2 separate regions of the Homo sapiens genome follow, and region 2 is linked to region 1. Evidence: fine-mapped expression QTL. A gene starts in region 1. The other region holds a variant in brackets. All regions are shown on one strand. Distances are from middle to middle.

What was found. PIP is the estimated chance that this variant, and not a neighbour inherited with it, causes the effect. A credible set is the group of variants that fine-mapping cannot tell apart.
Region 2: its variant is the best candidate, but not a certain one, in a credible set for the expression of TAS2R19 in spinal cord (GTEx, PIP 0.55).

Annotation. Positions count from the first base shown.
Region 1 is chr12:11,021,358-11,024,285 of GRCh38, reverse strand. It overlaps TAS2R19 (taste 2 receptor member 19), which reads left to right and starts at 1,666. Exons shown (of 1, transcript NM_176888.2): 1 at 1,666-2,667. The coding sequence starts at 1,715. The coding sequence ends at 2,614. All of the region lies in intron 3 of PRH1-TAS2R14 (PRH1-TAS2R14 readthrough), which reads left to right. The region is part of intron 3 of PRH1-PRR4 (PRH1-PRR4 readthrough); the gene reads left to right. It also overlaps a transcript of PRH1 not described here.
Region 2 is chr12:10,997,631-11,000,558 of GRCh38, reverse strand. All of the region lies in intron 3 of PRH1-TAS2R14 (PRH1-TAS2R14 readthrough), which reads left to right. It overlaps TAS2R20 (taste 2 receptor member 20), which reads left to right and starts at 2,255. Exons shown (of 1, transcript NM_176889.4): 1 at 2,255-2,928. The coding sequence starts at 2,684. All of the region lies in intron 3 of PRH1-PRR4 (PRH1-PRR4 readthrough), which reads left to right. It also overlaps a transcript of PRH1 not described here. The variant A/G (reference allele first, on the strand shown) is at 1,559.

The sequences.
Region 1 (2,928 bases):
CCATTTTTGTTTTGGTTCATTTCTAAGTGTGCAGTCTAGCTATATGATAAAAATTATTAATTAGGAGAAATGGTCCATGAAAATTATTATTACTCTGCTCATTATATACTGAAGGGAAAAATCCACTATTTGTATACATTCATGTGTAACTCTAAGAGATTTTAAGTAGAAACTTTCTGATTTTAGTTGCAACTTTAGGAAACTTGACATGATGTTACCTGCCAACCACAGATTTCTGAATAGGTTTTTCTTTTAGGTTTAATTACCCACTTCATATGACAAAACTTGGACATTCTCTATTTTTTCCTTCGATCCTGAATTCCTGACACAACAATGGTGGGCATATTTCCCACACTCCTGATTTAGCAGAATACCTACATCACTTATGTTTTTCTGCAAGAGAAAACTGAGTTAGATAATTGTGTATCATTATGTCTTTGGATTACATTTTTCTAACCTAGGTTTGGTGGATGGCTCTGGTGATTGGAGATGGGCCACGTACTGCATCTTGCCGCTAGTTTGGCTGATTTAGGGTAGATAAGGCAGTGGCATTCTGACTCCATTAGTTTCTCTTTCTTCTTCTGGGAACAGTGTGCTAGCCAGATGATGTCCTCATGGTTAGTGGAAAAGAGCAGGAAACTTCAATATGGAAGCCATCTTAAATCTCTGTAAATTCTACTAATTTCCTGTTGACTGAAGCAAATTACGTGAGTGAATTCAGAGTCCAAGGTCAAGGTAGTCACCCTGCCTGAGGTGGGAGGGTACTGCAGGATTATGTGACAAAGAGTAGGGTACTTAGAAATATTTACAAAATTGCTGAACATTTTAATTAAATAATTAATGTTTAAACAAAACAGACTTGAGTGTAAATATACCAAAGGCCTAAGCTTGAGAAACATGTTTGATAAATATTATTCATTGTCTGACAGCCCTGAGTTGGAAAATAAGACTAATACCACCTGGATGAGTTCCTGGAAACTCATTTTCCATTTGGGGAATTATAAGAAAATAATTCCTTCCATGCCCTAAGGGTGTGAGTGCATGTGTGTCTATGTGTTTAGGAGCTTATTAACAATGATGTCATATCAATTTATTGGTTATCAGAAACCAGATTTTAAAGTGTATCAGCCTCCCAGGGATTTCCAAGATAATCTTGGATGATTTTGATAAAAGGTTTAGAATCTGGTATTTAAATCTGGCATAAAAATAAGTCCATATTGGTATGATCCTAGTTATGACCAAGCTCCTTTAACAATTTAGACATTTACTATATGATATATGTATTGGGTTTTACAATTTCCCTATGGAACAACTGAAGATGCTGTATACAAATTATGGAGAGGTTAAACAAGGAAAAAAATTGCAAAACAATGAAAAATAATATGCCTTTCTTTGCATACTAACACATGAGAATTCATTTTCCACTTCAACCTCAGTATAAAAAAGTACAGCATATAGCAAGGAGAGAATGTATATGAAGAGGAGTGAATTTGAGCTGTTTTGAGAATAATGACCTTTTCTATTTCTATAAAGACAGTTTTGAATTCATCTATTAGCATATGCTGGTGCTTGCCTGTTGACACTAGTCACTGAATTTAAAGGCAGAAAATGTTATTGCACATTTAGTAATCAAGTGTTCATCGAAGTTAACATCTGGATGTTAAAGGACTCAGAACAAGTGTTACTAAGCCTGCATTTTTTTATCTGTTCAAACATGATGTGTTTTCTGCTCATCATTTCATCAATTCTGGTAGTGTTTGCATTTGTTCTTGGAAATGTTGCCAATGGCTTCATAGCCCTAGTAAATGTCATTGACTGGGTTAACACACGAAAGATCTCCTCAGCTGAGCAAATTCTCACTGCTCTGGTGGTCTCCAGAATTGGTTTACTCTGGGTCATGTTATTCCTTTGGTATGCAACTGTGTTTAATTCTGCTTTATATGGTTTAGAAGTAAGAATTGTTGCTTCTAATGCCTGGGCTGTAACGAACCATTTCAGCATGTGGCTTGCTGCTAGCCTCAGCATATTTTGTTTGCTCAAGATTGCCAATTTCTCCAACCTTATTTCTCTCCACCTAAAGAAGAGAATTAAGAGTGTTGTTCTGGTGATACTGTTGGGGCCCTTGGTATTTCTGATTTGTAATCTTGCTGTGATAACCATGGATGAGAGAGTGTGGACAAAAGAATATGAAGGAAATGTGACTTGGAAGATCAAATTGAGGAATGCAATACACCTTTCAAGCTTGACTGTAACTACTCTAGCAAACCTCATACCCTTTACTCTGAGCCTAATATGTTTTCTGCTGTTAATCTGTTCTCTTTGTAAACATCTCAAGAAGATGCGGCTCCATAGCAAAGGATCTCAAGATCCCAGCACCAAGGTCCATATAAAAGCTTTGCAAACTGTGACCTCCTTCCTCATGTTATTTGCCATTTACTTTCTGTGTATAATCACATCAACTTGGAATCTTAGGACACAGCAGAGCAAACTTGTACTCCTGCTTTGCCAAACTGTTGCAATCATGTATCCTTCATTCCACTCATTCATCCTGATTATGGGAAGTAGGAAGCTAAAACAGACCTTTCTTTCAGTTTTGTGGCAGATGACACGCTGAGTGAAAGAAGAGAAACCCTCAACTCCATAGATTCACAAGGGGAGCATCGTGGGTCTTCTAGCAGAAAACAAACTGATGGTGTCTGGAACATTTTATATTTCTATCAGTTTTTCCATAGTGTTTGTATGTGAGTAATTTCAAAACAGATACCTAGAAAAGTCATATATATATTTATGGGTGTATATGTGTGCATGTGTGTGAATAACAACGTTGACCATAAATTATGAAGCTGAGTATATTTCACATATATAGTATTTATATTTTATTATAGTTCATTGTATAGTATTTCATTTGAAGAATTTATTATCTCTCTT
Region 2 (2,928 bases), 24 kb after region 1:
CTAAAAACAAATTAACATAAAATGTCACAAGACATCAAAGACCAGTAGAAAATCTGAAAAGTAGCCAGAGGAAAAGATAGATTATTTTAAAAGGAACAACTTTCTAAATGACAACCTGATTTTCAACAGAAAAATGGAAAGTAGAATTCAATGGAATCATGTCTTTAGTGTGTTTCAAAAGAATAGAGGACCTTCATAAACAGAAATCCAAATGATATTTTTCAGATAAAAAATATTGAAAATACAAGGTTAAGCATGCAAGAAGGAATAAAAATTAACAGAAATGATAAATATGTGCATAATTCTAAATGAATGTTGACTGAATAAAATAATAGCGTCTTGCTGAGTTAAATATATTATTGATAAGATATATGCAAATAGCGATAAAGAGACTGGAGGTAAAGGTGACAGGAACAAATTTAGATAAATTATTTTTTGCACTTTTCTATGTCTGTGAGGATAATTTGAACACCACATTTAATGACCCCATAATAGGAATTGCATCAAATGATATGTGAAATAATGCTGATAGTAGTATTATTCATAATAGCTCAAAAATAGACTGCCCAAATATATATTAACTAAGGATGATTGAATGATATGAAAGATTACAGTAAATCCATACAGTGGAACAGTATATAGAGGTGAAAAGAAATGAATCACATGTACATGCAACTATGTAACTAAATTTCAGAAACATGATATCTAGTGCAAGAAGCCATGAACAAGAAGAACACACAGGACTGCACCTATACACAGTTCAAAGCAGGACAGACCAAGCTGTGGAGTTTAGGGTTGTGAACCTAGCTGGTAAAGTATAAAGAAATTCAAGCAAATGATCATCATAGATTATGAATATTGCTTATCTCAGGAGATGTGAATAAAGGTTTAGGGGCTTGGAAAGTGGCCTGGAAGTGGACCTAGTCTGTTTGCAGTGTTCCATGTCTTATCCTGCATGATGGTTACATAAGTGTTTATGATACATTGCTCTTACCTATTTTTGTTTTGGCCCATTTCTAAGTGTGCATTATAATTTTATTTAAAAAATTACAAATTGGGAGAAATGTCACGTAAAAATTATTAATTGCTCTGCTCATTATATACCTAGGGGGAAAATCCACCATTTACGTACATTCTTATACAACTCAAGAGAGCTAAAGTGAATTCTTATTTTAGTTGCAAAATGGAGAAATTTGAGATGCTGTTACCTACAGCCTCCAGATCTTTCCAAAAGTTTTCTTCTAGTTTTAGATATTCACCTCATATTACAAAAACTTTGATATTTCCAACCTATTTTTCCTTTGGCTCCTGAATTTCTGACACAACAAGGGCGCACATATTTCTCAAACTCTTGGATTAGCAGAGTACCTATATCACTTAGCTTTTTCTGCAAAAGAAACTTCTCCAAAACCACATTAGATATTTATATCTCACATGTTTTTGGATTCTGTTTTCTTAAGCTGGGGTTTGGTGGATGGCTCTGGTGATTTGAGATGGTCCAAGTTTTGCCTCTTGGATCTAGTTAGAGTTTGGCCGATTTAAGGCTGGATCAGGCAGG[A/G]GCCATATGATTCCATGAGTTACTCATTCTTATTCTGGGAACAGTGTGTTAGTGTGGACATGTTCTCATTATAAACCGGAAAGGAACAAGAAAGCCTAATGTGGAGGTCATCTCAAATTTCGATGTAAAGTGTAGTAATTTTCTGTTCATCAAAGCAAATTACATGATCGAACTCAGAGCCCTAGTGCAAGGTTGTCACTATGCCTGTGGTGGGAGGACACTGCAAAATTATGTGACAAAGGTCTGGTACTCAGGAATGTTTACAAGCTTGCAGGTAGCATTACCAAAAGCCTAAGCATGAGAGATATGTTTCATGAATATTATTCATTGGCTGAAAATCTGGCATGGGAAAAATAGGACTAATTCCACCAGGACGAGCTCCTGGAAACTCATTTTCCATGTCATAAGTTACAAGAAAGCAATTCCTTCCATCCTTGAAGAGTGAAAGTGTGTGTGTGTCTGTGTGTGTGTTTATGAGCTTGTTAATAGTGATGCCATATAGAAGTATTGGTTAACAGCAACCAAATTATAAGGAGTATTGGCTTTCCTGTGGTTTCCAAGAAAATCTTAGGTGATTTTGATAAAAAGTTTAGATTCTGTGTATTTAAATCTGGCTTTAAAAATAAATCCATAGTGATTTTGATCCTAGATTTCACCAGGCTCTTTTAACAATATATTTTTTGTGTCATCTATGTACTGGGTATTAAAATTTCCCCAACAACTGAAGGGCTGAACACAAATTATGGAAAGGTGAAACAAGGAAAAAATTGCAAAGCAATGAAAGAGGATATGTCTTTATTTGAATGCTAGCAAATGAGAATTCAGCTTTCCCTTCAACATCAGTATGAAAAATTTCAGCCTATAGCAAGAATAGAGACTTTATGAATAAGAATTAATTTGAGTTGTTTTGGGACTAACAGTATTTCCCATAAAGGCAGCATTGAACTCATTCATTAGTTTAAGCTGGTGCTTTTCTGTTGACATTGTTCACAGAATTTAAAAGTATAAAGAATGTTATTGGACATTCAGGAATCAAGTGCATATTTAACTTAAAGTCTTGAATATCAGAGGAGTCACCATCAGTGACATTAGGCCTGAATTTTTTACTTGCTTTTTTGTTTAGACATGATGAGTTTTCTACACATTGTTTTTTCCATTCTAGTAGTGGTTGCATTTATTCTTGGAAATTTTGCCAATGGCTTTATAGCACTGATAAATTTCATTGCCTGGGTCAAGAGACAAAAGATCTCCTCAGCTGATCAAATTATTGCTGCTCTGGCAGTCTCCAGAGTTGGTTTGCTCTGGGTAATATTATTACATTGGTATTCAACTGTGTTGAATCCAACTTCATCTAATTTAAAAGTAATAAT